3 linked regions of the Homo sapiens genome follow. The protein of the gene in region 3 purifies or fractionates together with the protein of the main gene of each other region. This does not show direct contact. Each region holds a gene or a part of one and is shown on either strand. Other genes may lie near its edges.

Region 1 (7,029 bases), on a different chromosome or scaffold from region 3:
TAGTATCTTAAAGGTTTGTTTCAGTGTGGAATCTAAAATTGCATCAGTGAACGTTTTTTACATTAAAATTCATTCATCTTCTTGCACTTTGAACGGATCTTTTGTCCACGCATAATTTTGTAACATCCTGCTTTGGTCATTTGGGAAGTATTGGTTCCCTGAGTCATCCAGCTGTTCTAAATGCCGCCACCTTTTATCAAACTATAAGCTAGATTTCATTAATAGCACCACCAATTTAATCAGAAAAGTCTTTGTGTTGTGAAGCACACAGGGGCAGATGCAGGTTTTCCAAAAAAAAAAAAAATTTTTTTTTTTTTGAGACAAGATATTTCCTCTGAGTAGTACAGTGGTGCAATCACAGCTTACTGCAGCCTCCACCTCTCGGACTCGCCTCTTGTAGCTGGGGCTACAAGCACACACCACCATGCCTGGCTAATTTTTGTCTTTATTTTGTGGAGACCTGCCATGTTGCCCAGGCTGGTCTTGAGCTCCTGGGCTCAAGTGATACGCCTGCCATGGCCTCCTAAAGTGCGGGGATTACAGGCATGAACCACCGTGCCCAGCCTATTTTTGCTTTTAACATAAGTGCTTTTCCTCAAGATAACCATCATACTTTGTGTAGCAAAAGTTCCTATGTATAACTCTCAATTCTGTCACACAGAATATTAAAGATTCGTACTCAAGGGTTGAAAATAAAGTTAATAATTTAATGACTTCATTAAAGATAAATGAAACTATGAGTATGTGGCAGAAAAAGAATACAGTGACTGCTGGTATGATTTGGGACTACTACCTTGACTCTTGGCTGAGACACTTACAGCTTTCCCCACCATCAGTACAAATGTTAGCATAGTGTAAAGGGCAGGTGACAGCTACATTATTATAAAACTAGTATTGACTTTGTGGATCCCCAAAAGCATCTTGGGGATTCCCAGGGGCTTGTGGATCTCACTTGAAGAACAACTGCCATAGAGTATATTGACAGTACATTGACAATGGATACTTATGAAACTAATTTATAACTTGCATATGTTAAATTAAAATATGCTCATGAAAAAGAAACACAATTTAAGTTCGATTTGTGATCTCTACATCTACAACATAATAATCTTTTAATACTTTGTGGTTTGTTTAGTTGCTTGACTAAACAAACTACCAACTGTTCAGCAGTTTCTTTAATTTTTAAGATAGTAGCTAGCTAACATTTATGGAGGGCTTAATTCTGCCACATACACATAGCAGATTTTGGCTACCTCACTTAGAATGATAGTAATGCACTTTCAGAGGACTTGGCAATAAAACAAAGTAACTTATTAAGTTAAAAAAGTGTTAAAAATAAACCGATTTTAGGCCCTAAGTCTTTGATTTACTAAACTTAACTTTTTTTTGTCTTTTACTTTTTTTCTTTTTCCATTTTCCCTTCCAGGTATGAATAAACTTAAATTTCTAATTCTGTATTTCTAGTACTTGAAAGATGAAGATGATGATCTTGTGTCACCCCCTAACACAGAAGGAAACCAGTGGTATGACTTTCTTCAAAATAGCAGCCACCTTAAAGGTACTTCATGAACCAACCAGATTTTGGCCATTTTTGTTTTTATTTAAGACTAGGTCTTGAATAGTTCTGCTAACAGTTTTGCTGAAAACTTGCTGAACACTTACCTAAGTTTATTAGACTTATATTTATTTGATTATAGGAACAGCAAAATAACCAATAGTGTATGACATCACCATGATAGATAGAAGACACTCTGAAGTTAACTACGCTGTAGGAAGATTGCTTATTCCTAAGTGTTCTCATATAAGTGTTTTGCACCCTGTAAAAAATAGGATTTTGAGGGAAACTATAGAGCCAAATAGTGAGAAAAGTCTTTTTTGCCAATTCCAATTTATTATCTTCTGAAAGCACAGGGATGCTCAACTGTATTCTCCTCGGGTTGTAGTTGGTGTGTGTGTGTGTGCATGTGTACTTGTTATACCTTTCATTTTCTAGAATGTCAGAATGTTAATACCGTAAAGCTATCCAGCATTATTAGGGATGCAGCACATAATAGCAACCATTAAATATGCCAGCACATCTTACCATTTTAGATGAAAATATTTTAAAGCTCGTATTTCTTTGATGTCTGAAAGAATAATCTGACCAGATTTAGCAATTGCTTAGATCTTTAAGGTAGTGGGTGCTTAGTCTAACTAAACATTTATGGGGTGCTTAGTCTGCCATATACACACAATACCTGCTTTAATCCTCACAAGATTCTATGGGTAGGTACTTGGTATCACCATTTACTAATGAGGAAACAGAAGGTTAGAGAAGCCCAGGATCACACAAGCTGGTTAGTGATGGAGCTAGGATTCTGTTAATGTGAAAGCCTGAGGTTTTAACTAGACTGGCAGTACAGGTTGAGCATCTTAATCCAAAAATCTGAAATCTTAAAATGCTCCAAAATCTAAAACTTTTTGAGCACCGACATGACACCACTAGTGGAAAATTCCATACCTGACCTCATATGATGGGTCCCAGTCAAAATGCAGTCAAGACTTTGTTTCAAGCACAAAATTATTAAATATATTGTATAAGATGTACATGAAGCATAAATGAATTTCGTGTTTAGACTTGAGTTCCATCCCCAAGATATCTCATTATGTATATGCACATATTCCAAATTCCAAAAAAATCCCAAACACTTACAGACCCAAGCATTTTGGGTAAGTGAAACTCAACCTATAGCAATTTCTGCCACTTGTATTTGGTTGCTGCTTCTGTGAATGAATGAATGAATGAATGAATGAATGAGGGAGAGAATTCTTTGATGCCAAGAACTTTGCATATAGTCCAAATTCTTTTTCAAGGCAGAACCTATTATGTATTGCCAGAGAGTCTTGAGGTCAGTAAGGAGATGCATTGGTGCAAGTTGGCTATTGAATGGAGGGAGGATAAAGGTACAGGAGACGCTACTTATTTACTGTATTTAATCAGGATGCCCAGGGAATAAGGCAGGATGTCTGGAGAGGGTCAGTGGCAGTGCGTCAAGAGTAGTGGCACCTGGACCCTGTTGCTATTTTGGCTATTATTGATCCAGGGAACTTTGCCAGGCTAAAAATAGGTCCTGTCCTCTTTTATTTGCCCCACATCTTACGTGTTTGAATAAGAAAGGCCTGATCTTAGCTACAGACCTAATGGAACTCACTATTGAGTTCCATAATGAATTCTAGTGAGGAAATATCAGTGAAACTGTTTTCTTACACTGCAAAAATCAAGTGCTAAATACTTGATCTGTGTACTTTCTTTAGGGTACATGGGTCAGTATTGTGTGGTGGGTAAAAGTTGGTGCTCTGAAAGCTGGATTTTCTGGGTTGGAAGCTGCTCTACTACTTCGTAGTAACACGGCTGAGAGCAAGTTGCCTAACCTCTCTGTGCCATAGTTTCTCATCTGTAAAATGAAGATGGTAATAATGCTGCCCTCAAAAAACTGGTGTGGAGATTAAATAAATTAATCTACATAAGCACTTAGACTAATGCCTGGCACTTAGCACAGAAGCAGTCTGTAGGTTAGTGTCTGAGCACTTTTTACTCAGTGTTTCTGACAACAAAATGAGAGAAATTTTTTTCCTCCTGACACCAACCAATTTTGACACCAACGGGGTGTCCTACAATTCAATTCTGACACGAATTACAGATAGTTAGCGCAGACCTCACAGGATAAGGATGCAGTCCCACAAGACTGCCCTCGCGTCAAATGTCAGGTCTCTGGGTCCCCACATCTCTTGGGTAGCCATGCTTGTTGTCTGACTTGGCTATAAGGTTAAGGTCAAGAGTTCCCAGAACCTTCCTCCCTTTCAGGTTGGATAATTTTGCTAGAATGGCTCACAAAACTCCGGGAAACATATAATTTTTGTTTACCAGTGTGTTGTAAAGAATATGACTCAGGAACAGCCACATAGAAGTGCTATATCAGGCAGGGTATGGAGAGAAAGGTGCAAAGCTTCCATGCTCTCCCAGCACCTGGACATATTCACCACCCAGAAAGTTCTCTGAACCTCATTGTCCCAGTGTATTTCTGGCGGTTTCATTATGTAGACATGATTGATGAAGTCATTGGCCATTGGTGATTGAACTCAACCTCCAAGCCCCTCTCTCTTCCTTGGAGGCTGGCGGGTGGAGCTGAAGTTTCCAAACTTCTAATCAAGGCTTGGTCTTTTTGGTGGCCAGCCCCTATCCTAAAGCTATCTAGGTGCCAGCCAAGAGTTGCCTCATTAAAACAAAAGATGGTAGTCCTAGCACTTTGGGAGGGTGAGGTGGGCGGATCACTTGAGATCAGGAGTTCGAGACCTGACCAACATAGTGAAACCCTATCTCTACTAAAAATTAGCTGGGTGTGGTGGTGTGCACCTGTAGTCCTGTTACTCGGGACACTGAGGCAGGAGAATCGCTTGAATCCGGGAGGCAGAGTTTGCAATGAGCTGAGACTGCACCACTGCACTCCAACCTGGGCAACAGAATGAGACTCTGTCTTTAAAAAAAGAAAAAAAAAAATGTTCCTGTCACCTTTATCACTCAGGAAATTCCAAGGGTTTTGGAAGCTCTGTTCTAGGAACTAGAAACAAAGATCAATGTTTTTCTGTGATAACATAGCATCTGTCACCTTGAGAACTTAAAATGTTAATGTGATTGTAGTTCATTTTATCCAGCATGGCTTTATCTAAGGGAGGGCCTACAAAGCACAGTGGAAGAGGGTGGGCATTAGAGTCAGACTTGGGTTTGATTGACAGAACTAGATACTTAGTTATTTTCACACTGGGCAATTGCCTAAACCTGTTAAGCTTCATTTTTTTTTTCATCTGTAAATTGGAGAATATGGTGTTTACTTCATATGGCTATTGTAAGCAATAAAAAAAAAGGTATTTTAAACACCTAGCATAGCAGGTGTTAGTGCTAAATTATATATTACTTTCTCCTGATAAAGTAACCTTTTAAAAAGTAAAGAGCTTATTTATATAGAGCTAGTTTCCAGTCTCTTGTTTTAGAGACTTAAAAAACAGTACTGGACTGCTGTTGTTGTTTCACTGTGGCAAAGAATAGAAGAATGAATTTTATTTCATCATATATTTGATGGTTCCCAAATCATTCCTTGCTTCTTATAGCCAGCAGAAACCTACAGTTGGATTTTGGTGAGTCTAAGTTTGTAGTAAGTGAGATTGTTTTTAGTGAGCTGTCAGCGGGGGTTGATGAAAGGCAGAAGACCATGGTCGTTTTTAATGAGGTTGTGTGAAAATCCAATGAAGTGGTCAGTGAAAATTCTACCTCGAGATAAACTGTGCAGACTGGCTCTAACAGTAGATTATTTTCTTCTAATTATAAGTTTGCTATAGCTTCTTTTATTTTTGTTTCTGTTTTTGTTTGAAACCAGAAAGTCCTTTGCTGTTTCCTTATTATCCTCGAAAATCATTGCATTTTGTGAAAAGGCGGATGGAGAATATTATTGATCAGTGTTTGCAAAAGCCAGCAGTAAGTTTGAAAGAAATGCATGTCTTTGTGTAGGAGCAATAGTGTCTACAGTATGTGGCTCACTTATGTAAATGATCTTAATTTTTAGAATGAACTATGAAAATGTTGATAGTCAACTGTTTTTGATTAACAAAAGTAACAATTTCATATGGTTCAACCTAATACTCCAACTTAAGTTTCTTACACACGTGTGTGTGTGTGTGTGTGTGTATAAAGATTACTGAAGGTGTTGGCATCTTGAGTATTTTATTTGTTCCCAGAAGAAATTCATTGTAAACAGTCTTAGTTACAGAGCTGATGTGTCTCTGCTTACTACTGAAGGATGTGAATGAATGGTTGTTATGAGACCAGAGGGAGGTGGTCTTAAACCTGCCATGTGCTTAGCACCAAGGTCCTTTTCAGCTCAGAATTTTCTCTTTTTCCTTACTGTTACAATTGTCATTAACGTTTCTTATGTACAAGGTTTGGTGATGTAGGCGATTTTTTTACCACATTCGAACAGTGATGGTCAGTCACTTTCTGTAGAGTATCTGTGTGCATATTAACGCTCTAATTATATTTTAAAATCTTATTTTATATAGGATGTAATTGGAAAATCGATGAATCAAGCAATCTGTATTCCATTGTATAGAGATACCAGAAGGTAATTCTGTTTACCTATTGGATGGTGTAATTCCGCAGCCAATTTAAATTTTTCTCATTTCTTTTTCCCTTTTATTTTAGTGAGGATTCTACACGTAGATTGTTCAAATTTCCTTTTCTGTAAGTATATATTTCTTCCCTATCTTGAGTGAACAATACAATTTTGTTTTATCCATCAATAGTTAAAAAATATTATGACAATTTTTTTTCTTAGGTGGAATAATAAAACTTCAAATCTACATTATCTTCTTTTTACTATTCTAGAAGATTCACTTTATAAAATGTGCATCTTAAGGAGACATACTGATATTTCTCAGTAAGTATTAATCTGAAGTTTGAATCAAAGAGATAAGATTTTATTATTTGTAAGAATGAAGCATACAGCCTTCCAGCATTTCAGATTTTAAACTACTTTGTGACTTTTAGATGTGTCATTTAATTGTTAGTTTTCATGTCATTAAAAGGGTAACACTGAATTAGGAAGTTATATGATCTTGTTTTAGATTATTTAATTTTTATTGGCATATAATCATTGTAGGACTTTTTTTAGAGTTAGGAAAAATATGACAGCTCAGGATATTATACTTCATTTTTTAGAAGTTAAAAACTTCCGAAAAACTAAAAGTTAAAGAAGTTTTAACTTTTTAGAAGTTAAAAACTTCTAAAAGTGGCTGCCTTATAGAAATGATTTTTGCCTAGGGTTAAGTATGCTTTTCATTAAACAAGAGGCCTTGCCTAACAGAGACTTACTTTGAAATTGAAAGTAGAAGTTCTGAAAAATAAATCATATTTAGAACGCCATTGGTAGCTTAAAAATGGTTTTAAACCTGAATTTGAAGAAAATGTTGAGACCACGATGTAACCAAAAAGAAATAATT
Region 2 (7,029 bases), on a different chromosome or scaffold from region 3:
CAGAGCGGGGGTTTCACCATGTTGGCCAGGCTGGTCTCAAACTCCTGGCCTCAAGTGATCCACCCGCCTCGGCCTCCCAAAGTGCTGTGATTACAGGTGTGAGCACGCCTAGCCTTATATGTCTCTTTAGAAGTGGCTCAGATCAAGTGATGTTGCGCAGGCTTTGGGTCTTAGACTGAAAGACTCATAGAAACTTTTTGCCCATTTTAAATTGCAGTTATCAGATGTTCTGAGCTCATTAACTACTGTACACTTACAGTTTTTACATTTTAGGATACGACTTTCTACTGACATCAAATTTATATTTTGCAGCACCTTGGACTAATTTTTGAATTTGGGATTAGCTGTGACACCCACCCCTCACCTCCGATTAATTGTATACTCAGAGCCATCGCAACTTAAGGCACAAGGGAGAGGGTGTGGGAAGAAACTCCCAGCCCCAGAGCTCAGGGTGTGATACTCAGGCTGACCAGTGACAGACTGCTGGAACCAGACCCCAATCTCACAGCTGCAGCAAAAGAGCCAGGCAGACGCAGCTGAAATCTGGCCAAAGACTCTCAGGCTCCAGGGAAATTAACCTACCCAATATGCAAACAGATGAACCAGCTCAGGGTTCCTGAGCTTTCCAACCCTCCTGGCTCCCAACACCAGGGGAAGAAAGTCTATTTCTGGCAAATAATTCTGGGGCTGAATCAATGCATTGCGAATAAGACAAAAATACTAAGAGTCTATTTTGAAAAGGGCTTCCATTCTGATCACCCCAACACCATGACTGTACAAACCAGTTTTATTAGGGAACTGCCCCAGGTGCACCTCTGGTTCATGCTCTTGTCACACCTGTTTCTCAGATCAGCCCAGGCTCAGAGGCAAGTTACTAGCTAAGCAAAGAGGAAAACTGTTCTGCAAAATAGCAACTGTCAGCTTAAGGCATTACTAACATTGCAGAAGGAAGCAAGATTTACTAGGGACATCTGGATAGCCCAGGACAATGACTTCTGGGAACAGGAAGCTCCCTAGGGCCAGATCGTGCTGCCATCCAACTTGGGAGATGACATTATCGTGCTGGGATGGTGGGTAACTCCTTCAAACCAATCCATGTCACAGAACACTGTCTATTCCTTGAGCTTTTGGATTTAGAAATTAGTTATATAAAAAGTACTCTTGGCCCAGAAGCCCCAACATGTGCGTGGGTCTCGGGGCACTCCCTCAGTCCTCCCTGGCTGGAGCAGGGGAGGATGGAGATACATGGAAGGTTGGTCAGGCTCTGTTTTAGAAATGAAGTCACGACTAGGAATTGGGAGCGAGGGGGCAGAGACCCCTGCTGCAATCACATGCTGAATCATTGTCCTTCTGAGAGCAGGCTCCTACGGTTCCTTCAGTCCACGGAAGTGCTCAGAGCAGGGCAGGCCACTGCGGCCATGGAGCTGCCGCCCCCTCACTGCATGCCGAACCACTGCTCCTGGTCAGCCCACTGGGCCGCCTCACTGTCGCTGCCCTCCAGGTCCCCTTCTTCCCCACTCCCTTCCATGTCGTCCACATCCTCCTCCTGAGTGGCATCCGTGGGACTCTCCTCCTTCTCCATCTTCTGCATCCCCTCTAGAGACTTCTGGTCATTGGGGTCCAAACTAGGGGACAACAAAACAAAGGAGAGGCCTGAATCTCTGCCTTGCTCTTGCTGGCTGATTCGTCATCTCCCTGGCCCGGCAGTGAAATGACCACACAGTCCCAAAAAATGTGCTAAAGCCTGGCCTCTCCAAACAACTCAGGCTTCCAAGGCTGGGTTGAGGGAGTCCACCACCAGAAGTGCAAAAAGGAGTCTCTTCCTAATTTTTAGAGTTCTCAATTTGAGTTTTTCTCCACAAATTTCTTAAACTTTTTCATACCTATTACCCCTAGCATTCTGCTAGAGGCGGCTACCAGATAACACAAATGAAAAAGTGGCAAACAAACATTACCAGGTAAATTCAAATGGAATTCCCAGAAAGTTGGGTTTTAGAGCTACAGGGTTACAAAAAATAGGAATTTCTCTGAGTATAGGTGTCCCATGTTCTTATGATGTAATTAAACATAGCAGCATTTCAGGAGCCAACCAAAAACATCACGCTGTACCATGGAACAGACTTGTAAACACCTAGGTCAGACCCCAGGACCCAAGGCTACCCCTACCCAAGCATTCACATTTAGCAGCTGAGTGTCAGTACATACGCCACCCCCACCCCCAAAGTTCAGAGCCTCTAGAACATTCATTTATTTGCCTCCTAAGCAATCTTTCCTCTTGCCTTAGTGACCATCACCCAAGCCAGCAGGCGTCCCACGCCTAGCAAACCCCACCTCTAATGGAAGTCTGATATTTTATTTTCTCACTTGCTTCTGAGATTCTAAAAAGCAGCTAAAACCCATGTTGGCACCGTTTCTACCGATATAAATGCGGACCGATCTGTAACATCTCCTCGTCTCCTGGTTGAAGCCTTCCACATCCTGTACTCTGAAGCTCTCACCCATACCCAGGGCTCCTGCCCTCTGGACTCCCACCTTCCCTTCTACAGACTACTATGAAAGCCCTTAGCACATGGCATGGCCAGTCTGCATGTCTGAGACTGACAGCTCCCGAAACATAGCATCTCCAGTTGTCACTGAGATGCTAGGCACACAAGTGGTGCTCAACTGTGTGCTGAACAATTGAATGTGATCAGACTCTATTAAAGACAGCCCTTCACCATAACCTTACAGACACACAGACAACCCTCAAAGAAACCACTTCTGTATTAAACAGTAAGAATACCACTATTTATTTAGCATTTACTATGTACCAGGCACAGGGCTAAGAGCTTTACATGAAATAATCATTTAACCCTCATTCGATCATTTAATATCTAATAAGGTAGCTAGATATAGACAAGGAAATGTGTTAGTAACTTGCCCAAGATCACAGGTGGTGAAGGTAGTATTCAAAACTTCAGACCTCAAGTTCTTAATGACTACAGTAGATAGAAACATGGGAAAGTACTTACAATACTTTGATTTGAAAAAGAAGAATATAAAATATATACTAGGTACAGCCCTATAAAAATATGTGTGTGTGGGCAAGGACAGAAGATGAGCTATACAAATGAACACAGATGTTATAGTGGTGTGGGATGGTTATGAGTGAAACAGTTCTCTAATGTTGTTAATATATTTTAAGAAAAAATTTTTAGAAGTCATGAATTCACAAATAACTCTTCTACCATTACTATTATTATTCTGCTTTCAACCATGGACACAAAGTGTGTGTGTGTTTCCATAACTCCTGTGACACAGCTCACTGCCTCCTCTACCCTCCTCAGTGGCCTTCCCCCAAGGGAGGCTAGTGCCTACCTTAGTGCTATACTATACTGGTCCATTGCCTCCTGATACTCATTGACAGCTACAAGGAAATCTCCTAGGATCCGATGCAGGACACAGTCACTCTGATTAGCCAGTGCGTTCCTCAGCAAAGCAATTCCATCTTCATATTTCTGTTCTCTGCCTGGGGGAATAAAAAAGACCCTCACTTAAGTCATGTACAAAAAAACCACAACTACCATTCTGACCATCTCTTTGCAGACATCCTCAAGAGAACACTGGTGCAACACAAAGCGAGGGCAAGCACACCTGAAGCCCTATTCAGTTAAGAAATTTTCCATCCTGGCTAACACAGTGAAACCCCGTCTCTACTAAAAATACAAAAAATTAGCCGGGCTTGGTGGCAGGTGCCTGTAGTCCCAGCTACTCGGGAGGCTGAGGCAGGTGAATGGCCTGAACCCAGGAGGCGGAGCTTGCAGTGAGCCGTGATTGTGCCACTACACTCCAGTCTGGGCAACAGAGCGAGACTCCATCTCAAAAAAAAAAAAAAAAAAGAAATTTGCAGTTTGAATTATAATGTTTTAAATGGGCTCTTAACTTTAAAAAGCCAAACTGCTTTGCCAACTAGCCCAAATTCAATGAACCAAATTATGAGTTTATCATAAATCAGGACTGAAAAAAAAAAAAAAGGGCCAAACGGGAAGTCATAAAATCATCCAGATAGCTCCACTCAAAATGGCTAAAATCAGTTAGTTATATTCAGCTCCAACTAATTCAGGACAACTCAAACCAGATAACAGTGAGCCGAGGCTGGGCACGGTGGCTCACACCTATAATCCCACCACTTTGGGAGGCCGAGGCGGGTGGATCACAAGGTCAGGATTTCGAAACCGGCCTGGCCAATATGGTGAAACCCCATCTCTACTATAAAAAAAAATAATAAAAAATAAAAAAATTAGCTGGGCATGGTGGTGCACGCCTGTAGTCCCAGCTACTCAGGAGGCTGAGGCAGAAGAATTGCTTGAACCCGGGAGGCGGAGGTTGCAGTGAGCTGAGATCGCACCACTGCACTCCAGCCTGGGTGACAGAGCAAGATGCCGTCTCAAAAAAAAAAAAAAAAAAAAAATTAGTGAGCCGAATAGATACCAACCAATTATAGGTGGTTGGAACCAAGCCAAGCAGATCTAAGCCAGCTACGTTTGGTTGGGCTAAATATAAACCAATCCAAGCAGGCTCAGACCTGCTGCAAAAGGCACACACCTGTCTAGTCATCTGTAACTAGCTGGGACAAGGGGCTCCAACTGAGGTCAGGTTTTATAAAAATTAATGATGAACAGGACAGAAAATAAGACACACTTACTAAGTAGTTCTGCTTTTTTCACCACAGCCTTAATGTAATCTGGCCTTTGGGTCAGGGCTTTATCTAATAATGTTTTGGCTTTCTCCTGTGTCACTGGGTCTTCAAGACAAACGGTGGCTAAAAGGGTAAGGGTCTGTGCATTTGCTCCCAGAGTTTTGTAAACGTTGTTAGCCATTACCATTGCTTCTCGAATACTGTTGGAGGCTAAGTAACATTCGATAAGACCTGAAAAAAGTAAAACACGTGAAGACATTCAATGCCATTACCATTCCAACCCATGCTTCCACTCTGACAGCTCTCCAAATTGCTAACCTTCAAAGTTTCAGACAAAGGGCAGGCCACGGGAAACTGATGGTGAGATTAGACTGGCAAGAGTGTTGATGGAATAGCTAAGAAGTGCTCTTCCCCAGAGAACTTGATGGATGTAGAAAAAGACTGCCTTCAAAGGCACCTTCAGTTTAGGGAAGGAAACAAGCACATGTAAGGAACCTGCAGCATGTGAGCACCCCATCTGACCACTGGAAGAATAAATGCGACACTAATGATTAGTCTGTCATATGGCCAAGAGATCAAAGTAGTGAGAGATGATGTTCCCAACAAAACCCAAGGTTTTGCTGCCTCTTAACAAGCAGTTATTCTCCAGCTGCATTCGGTCACCTGTAGGGCTAGGTTTAAGATGGAAGACTCCTAGGGTCTTTATTTTATTATTTATTTTTTTTGCGACAGAGTTTCACTCTCGTTGCCCAGGCTGGAGCGCAATGGCGCCATCTCGGCTCACTGCAATCTCCGCCTCCCGGGTTCAAGCGATTCTCCTCCCTCAGCCTCCCGAGTAGCTGGGATTACAAGCATGCACCACCACACCCGGCTAGTTTTGTATTTTTAGTAGAGACGGGGTTTCTCCATGTTGGTCAGGCTGCTCTCGAACTCCTGACCTCAGGTGATCCGCCCAGCTCAGCCTCCCAAAGTATTAGGATTACAGGCGTAAGCCACCGTGCCTGGCCTGGCTCCTAGAGTCTTAAAGTGAATTTACAGTTTGACAAATAAAGGACTTATTGTCAAGCAACTTAGGGAGAAAGACTCTTTTATTTGAAACGTAACAGCTGTCTCAAAAGGCACTTGCTGAGGGCTTCCCTAAACGAGATGAACAGTACTTACCACATGCACCAAACAGACTGCAACTGGCAGCCCTTGCCTCTTTCCACACCCACAGCGAGACGCCCTATGAGGAGGCCACCTTGAGAAGAGTCAACTCTCAACTCTTCATGCCAGTAAGTTGAGGAGAACAGAGGAATAACTTTTTGGCACAAAGTGCTCATCAAAACAAAAAAACAGCTTAAAACCCCAAACCCACACAATCCTTGGCAGATTTTCTCTGCATACTCCTCCACCCTAGCAGCATTTATAACATTCATGCACACCCTTCCACACACTATGGTTACTTAACCAGAAATTACCTAACTCTAACTATTTTTTTTTTTTTTTTTGAAATGGAGTCTTGCTCTGTCACCCAGGCTGGAGGGCAGTGGTGACATCTCGGCTCACTGCAACCCATGTCTCCTGGGTTCAAGCAATTCTCCTGCCTCAGCCTCCCAAGTAGCTGGGACTACAGGCGTGCACCACCATGCCTGGCTAAATTTGTTTCTATTTTTAGTAGAGATGGTAGTTCACCATGTTGGCTAGGCTGGTCTCGAACTCCTGACGTCAGGTGTTCCACCCGCCTCAGCCTCCCAAAGTGCTAGGACTACAGGCATGAGCCACCATACCCAGCCAATTACCTAACTCTTAAGGGCAACATGTTGGATTCCACATACAGTTGTTTGCAATTACTTACTGAATAGTTTTACTTCCCTGCTAAAGCCCTACTGGAACTTCAGAAAAAAACAGAATGCACTTGCCTAACCTAAATCTCTACCAGCAAAAGAAGGAAGCTCCAACTGGAAACTGTAAGAAATATCAAAGGGTGTAGTCAGAGTTGCCCTGACCTAAATCTCCAAATGGCAGCTTAAGAAGCCTCACTGGCCAACTGGGAAACATCCGCTGTCCAAATATTATAGGACGGACTATTCAACCGCATCCCTGAGCTCTGGTGAAATAGGCATGCAGTATAATGGAATTAACATGATTAACAGCAGCTGGGAAGACAGGGAAGTTACAGTTTCAGGATCAAGAAGTTAATCTGAAATCAATGGTTGGTTTGCTAGAGCTTCTTTCAGAACAAAGACAATACTCTTTCCCCCTCAACAAATCCAGAGGCATAGCTCTCTGGCTATATAAGCAGATTTGTTCTCTTTCCCAACATCCAAATTTTATTTCTCAAATTTGAACTCATCTTCCTGTTAAGAGCA
Region 3 (5,809 bases):
GGATTATACCATCTCTTCAGTCTTCGTGTTTAAGAAATAACCTCTTTGGCTTACAGATTTGACAAGATCAAAGCTGCAGGAAAATGGACAGTGAGGTTCAGAGAGATGGAAGGATCTTGGATTTGATTGATGATGCTTGGCGAGAAGACAAGCTGCCTTATGAGGATGTCGCAATACCACTGGTAGGTTATGATTTGAGCTGAGGATGGGTTAAAGGTATTGATCTGGCAGTAACTAGTGGAGGAGGGATATCAATGGAAGATAAACTAGTGTGGCAAAGAAATCAAAGCTGTGGAATTCTCTAACTCTAGAAGCTTCTGGAGAGCATCCAGTTGTATGTTTTATTTGAAGAAAAATGTGGTTCAGGGAGCTAACATGGCCAGGTCAGTTAGGAGTCATGCCAGGACTAGAGCCCCGATTTTCTGAGCCATGTTCTGTCCACCACACGAAAACCAGAGAAACCAAATAATGAGAGTTTAATGCGCAAGATGGGGAAGAACAAGAAGCAGCAGCATATGAGCTCTGTTTCTTACTTCCCTGCCTGTGGCTCATCAGTCTTTCAGCATTTTTAGAAACTTACATTCTTGGAGCATACACCTATCTTAGGTTCCCTGGAAAATATTCAGAAGATACCTGGGTATTCTTTTGCGTTTAGGCCAGTGGCCTTCTGGAATACTCTTTTCTTCCCCATCTTTGGAAAACTCTGCTGCAGGGAGTTTGTTAAACCTCATGTAATAAGTGATCCAAAAGTTTTGCTTATATAAATGTTTGTTTAAAATCCTATTTATGTCATAGAGGCCTAAAAAAGGGAAAACAGGACTGTTTTTCTTTAAAGCATGCCAGCTGCCCTGAGAAGAGTAGTTAGTATTGAATAAAATATAATTTATAGTTAGAATATCTGCTGTTGCTGTTTGCAAAGAAATAAAATAGTTCATCTGTATTTTCATTTACGAATAAGAGATAGTAATATGTTCAATGAATAATATACATATCAAATAAGTCATAGCTTAGTTCAAGCTTAGGAAAATAGTCAAAAGAGAGAGCATAATAAGAATTATAGATGTCATTTATTGAATACCAGTTTTATGCCATGGACTGAGGTTGGAAATATACATTATCTCTAATTCTTAAACAACCCTGTGAGGGAGGTGCTGTTATTCCCATTTTATAGGAAAAGAATAGGATCAGAAAGGGCAACTTGCCCAAAGTCTGGTAGCAGGTAAGTAGGGCTTCATATAACATATACCTAGGTCTGTGAAGTTCCAAATCCTGTCTTGTGAACTTCTGTTCATTCATTCATTTGACAAGCATTTTTTGAAGCCTACTGTGTGCCATAAGACTATGTGAACATAAGATACAGTTCCTCCTCCTGAGGGGTCTAGAAAGGCAACACTTATAGATAAGTAATTGTGATAATAAATATTCTAGGTGGGGGCATAAACAGCCACATCATATACGAAGTGGCTGATTGCCTGGTGGGCATCAGAAAGGCTTCTGAGAGAATGTCATGTTTAAGCTGGGTCATAAGGAAGGACCAGAAGTTTAGTGGAGGTAGACAAGGGTATTGCAGCAGAGGGGACAGATGTGTAAAGGCCCAGAGTTTTGAAAGGCTTTGGGACATGGTGAGTCATTCACTGTGGATGAAGAATACATTTGTCACATAAGTAGGCTGAAAAGTTGGGCTTGGATCAGATTGAGAGTGGTATTTGATATCACACTTAGACCTCATCCTCAGGAGATCCAGGAATGAATGGTCTTAAAAGCAAGACTGCTATGCTCAGATTTGGCTTTTGGAAAATCAGTTTAGCCAGCATTGTTAGAGATGGTGTGACATGGAGATAGGGGCAAGTGAGACCAATTGGCAAGCTGTTGTGGTCTAGGCAAGGGAGGAGGGCCTAAACAAAGTCAAGAAAATAAAGGAGACGTCCATTTCTGGAGAAGTTTATGGCTCAGATTGGAGAACATTTGGGTGGCAGGGGTGGAAGGAGGTTTCCCTGCTGACTTCCAGGCGAAGTTGGCTTGGCCCTGCTGCTAATCCACACCTTTCGCTTGTCTTGCGATTCTAAGGCAATGTGTATGCCAGTTAGGTTTTGCTGCATAACAAGTCACCCCAAAGCTTAGTGACTTAAAAGAGCAACTGTTTATTTCATGATTTTGTAGCTCAGCTGGGAGGGACTTCTAGTCTGCACCAGCTCAGCTGATCCCTGCCAGGCTTGCCTGTGTTGTGCAGTCAGCCAACAGACTCTGGAGGCTGGGTAATCTAGGACTGTCTCACATGTCTGGCAGTTAACAAGCTGTCTGCTGGGTGATGGGGTGACTATGCCATGGTCTCTGGTATCCAGCAGGCTAGCCCAGACTTCTCAATCTCAGGGTTCCAAGAGCAACCTGAGAGGAAACGGCAGAGCTTCTTGGAGCTTAGGCCAAGAACTGGCCCACTGGCATGACAGCTTCATTCTGTTGGCCAAAACAACTCACAGGGCCAGTCCAAATCCAAGATTGGGGAAATCAGTTTCACCTTTTGATAAGAGTAGCTGCAAAGAACTAAGGGCATTTTACAGTACACCATAATGGGTGGCTGGGTTTATGATACTTTTGTTTTTGTTTTCCAGGCATATATGCCATTTTATGTGTTGGCATGTATTGCAAGGGACAGTAGATACCAAATGAAAGACACATTATTTTAGAAAGCATACCACAGATAGGATGAAATTAAGCAACGTTGTCTGCTTCTGAATTAAAGAATTCATTAACCAAGGACCTATTTATTCTTTGTCATCTATAAGTAATTATTAGGACTGAACTTTCTTTTTAAGTTTAAGATAATATATTATTGCGTTACAATAAATGATAGCTCTTCTCAATCTGTTCAAGTATGTTTGAATCTGTCTTGTAGAACAAGATGTATGTGATTCAAATATAGATAAGTAAATATCATTTAATATATATTGAGCATAATTTTAGAGGGGAAAACATATTCACATACTACAAATTAGAATCCAGTGGAAAATTTTAAGTCTGGATATCGCATAACAGTTTGCTAACCATAAAACAAAACACAGATAATTGAAAAGAAATATATTGGTATCTGTGAACTCTGGTACAAAGCAGAGTTTCAGTAGTAATACATTTAAACTTAAAATACAAGTAAATGATCCCAGATCCTACAGTAAGTGTGGCCCATGACTTACCATTTTAAGAAAATTGCTGGTAGGGTGTGAATTGGTCATTTGTTGTGTTTTTTGTTGCTCTGCTCCACCACTAGAGGGAGGTCTTATCTATTAATTACATTTTCAGTGTTTCCTGCCCTACCTCCATTTTTATTATAATATAGACATGTTGGGCCAGGCGCGGTGGCTCGCGCCTGTAATCCCAGCACTTTGGGAGGCTGAGGCGGGTGGATCACCTGAGGTTGGGAGTTCGAGACCAGCCTGACCAACATAGAGAAACCCCATCTCTACTAAAAAAAAATAAAAAAATACAAAATTAGCCGGGCATGGTGGTGCATGCCTGTAATCCCAGCTACTCGGGAGGCTGAGGCGGGAGAATCGCTTGAACCCGGGAGGCAGAGGTTGTGGTGAGCCGAGATCACGCCATTGCTCTCTAACCTGGGCAACAAAAGCAAAACTCCATCTCAAAAAAAAAAGACATGTTGGGTCCAAGATAATTTTTTGGATACATTTCTTGTGTCTAAGGAATATGCCAGCAAACTAGTATTCTTTTAAAGCACGCTCCCGCTAAAGAAGATTTAGGATTCACTCATCTCAGTGTTCCTAGCCGCTAATAATAATAGCAAATATTCCTTGAGCACTGGATACCCCACAGAGTGCTCAGCACTTGATCTGAATTACCTCACCTAATCCTTACAGTAGTCCTGTGAGGTGATGGCTCTTTTGTTCTCCCATTTGCCAAGGAAGAAACAAAGGCCCCAAGGGTTTGCATACCTTGCCCAAGTAACCCAGCAAATGGGAGAGTTGTGGTCTTGGATCCTAGTTGGCTTCCAAAAGCCTCTGCCCTTAACCTTTCTGCCACAGTGCCTCCTTCACAAATGTCAGAGTCAAAATGCCCATCATTCCCTACTGAAGAAGGCCCGGGCCATGTTTGAATGATACTTCTGATAGTTTCCTCACGTGTATGATTTTAGCTTTTTTAGAATACACATATCAATTATGTTGCCTGTTCCTAGGAACTCACAAGCTTTAATTCTAAGTGTTCTTGAGTTCCAAGAAGATGCAGAATATATTACTGTTCTGAATTTCTATTGTACCTTTTCAGAATGAGCTTCCTGAACCTGAACAAGACAATGGTGGCACCACAGAATCTGTCAAAGAACAAGAAATGAAGTGGACAGACTTAGCCTTACAGTACCTCCATGAGAATGTTCCCCCCATTGGAAACTGACGCTTGGCTCCTTTCTTGTGGATGGATTTTCTCAAAGTACACAGATAAAGCATGGTTTGTTTCAGTCTCCAAATTCAAACCTTTGAGTAATAAATCAGCACTCAAAAATGTACACCCATTTAGTTTGTGGTAGCAAAGTGCAATGCGAAATTGAATGAGAAACTGAGATTTCTCAGTAATGGTGAATATTTCGCTCTTTAAACCTAAAACTCTTCATTGAGTAGCTTATATTTGAACATGATTGGTTAAACATTTGCCTCTACCTCTGATTTTGCTTTGCTGTCAAAGTTTAACACCTTCCAACTACTTATGTGTGTCCTGTAACACAGGTGATTGAACGTATGAGAGGGAAAGGCAAAGAAAAAGGAAGCCAGACACTAGGAGAATTATTAACTTCTCATACTTCCCCACATTGAGAAGCATTCGGAGTGTATTTAGCCTGTAGATGTTGTGATATGCAAATATCCCATTCCCTGGTTACTGGCATTCCTAAGATTCTTCATGGTATTTTCAAACTTTGGATAAATTTACAGATTAGAAAGATATCTGACAGTTAATCTCTGTTCTCCTTACAAATTCCTTTTGTGCTGCTGGAAAGGATCTTTGGCTAGGTGGATGACTAGTTTTATTCAAAGCCTTTTCTCAAAGCCCTTTCAGTTACAACCACCCCACTATGGAATCAGTATTTAGTTATACATTTGTATAAGAACCTGTATTTTGAAAAACACATTCATGTATATTTATTCCTGGAATTATTTGCCTGTTAAACAGTGTCTTTCATGTTCTCTCCCCAGATTGTAAACTCTGTAAGAAGCTGCTTGTATCTGTATCCCTTGTTGAAACTCTGAAAACACTGAATAACTAAAATCTCTTCTCATCCTTTTTATGCTGGGTCTTTTTGTTTACTTAGCTTTTAGGAGGAAGAGGTACATGAAAAAACAAATTAGCTTATTTTAGGTTTTCAATCACAAACATGATTTTAGCAGCTATCCTATAATCCAGATACATCCAGGCTGATTTCTTCTCTTTGCATCAGTAGTTCTGCCTAGAAATCTTTTATCTTCAGAATAAAGACCCCAAGGCACCAGTCCCTTCAGTAAGCAAAGAAAGACAACCTAATAGAAAAGAGACTTACAATATTAAAAAAACTTATACAAGAGAAAAAGCTTTTCAAAAAATTAAAATACCTAGAACGCCACAGTTCTTTCACATTCTTGTTAAATGAGGATTTTACAGCTTACTTGTGGTATGTAATCTCTGAGACACTAACATCTAAGAACTTGACAAATGTTCATGTGAATCCTGCCTAGCCTTTCCCTGGAATATTAGTAGACCAGTAAAATATGAAAGCTATTCTTGATTTCTGCTGAACCAGAATATGATATCTGTAAGACAGCTGTTGGTTTGTGTC

The links. The genes of interacting proteins can lie anywhere in the genome.
Region 1: the proteins of ANAPC13 (region 3) and ANAPC4 purify together in Homo sapiens (affinity purification with mass spectrometry; 10 studies listed by BioGRID and IntAct, with this or other methods). This does not show direct contact.
Region 2: the proteins of ANAPC13 (region 3) and ANAPC7 purify together in Homo sapiens (affinity purification with mass spectrometry; 4 studies listed by BioGRID and IntAct, with this or other methods). This does not show direct contact.

Annotation. Positions count from the first base shown.
Region 1 is NC_000004.12:25,408,234-25,415,262, forward strand, and holds part of ANAPC4 (anaphase-promoting complex subunit 4), read left to right. Parts: intron 1-1,464; coding exon 1,465-1,558; intron 1,559-5,411; coding exon 5,412-5,509; intron 5,510-6,090; coding exon 6,091-6,152; intron 6,153-6,232; coding exon 6,233-6,271; intron 6,272-6,365; coding exon 6,366-6,467; intron 6,468-7,029. UniProt on the Homo sapiens protein: Component of the anaphase promoting complex/cyclosome (APC/C), a cell cycle-regulated E3 ubiquitin ligase that controls progression through mitosis and the G1 phase of the cell cycle.
Region 2 is NC_000012.12:110,372,709-110,379,737, forward strand, and holds the end of ANAPC7 (anaphase-promoting complex subunit 7), read right to left. Parts: intron 5,136-7,029; exon of another isoform or gene 4,997-5,135; intron 4,910-4,996; coding exon 4,685-4,909; intron 3,509-4,684; coding exon 3,358-3,508; coding exon of another isoform or gene 3,354-3,357; exon of another isoform or gene 2,766-3,353; intron 1,626-2,765; coding exon 1,436-1,625; 3' UTR 192-1,435; downstream 1-191. UniProt on the Homo sapiens protein: Component of the anaphase promoting complex/cyclosome (APC/C), a cell cycle-regulated E3 ubiquitin ligase that controls progression through mitosis and the G1 phase of the cell cycle.
Region 3 is NC_000003.12:134,477,179-134,482,987, reverse strand, and holds the end of ANAPC13 (anaphase-promoting complex subunit 13), read left to right. Parts: intron 1-56; 5' UTR 57-83; coding exon 84-182; intron 183-4,272; coding exon 4,273-4,398; 3' UTR 4,399-5,282; downstream 5,283-5,809. UniProt on the Homo sapiens protein: Component of the anaphase promoting complex/cyclosome (APC/C), a cell cycle-regulated E3 ubiquitin ligase that controls progression through mitosis and the G1 phase of the cell cycle.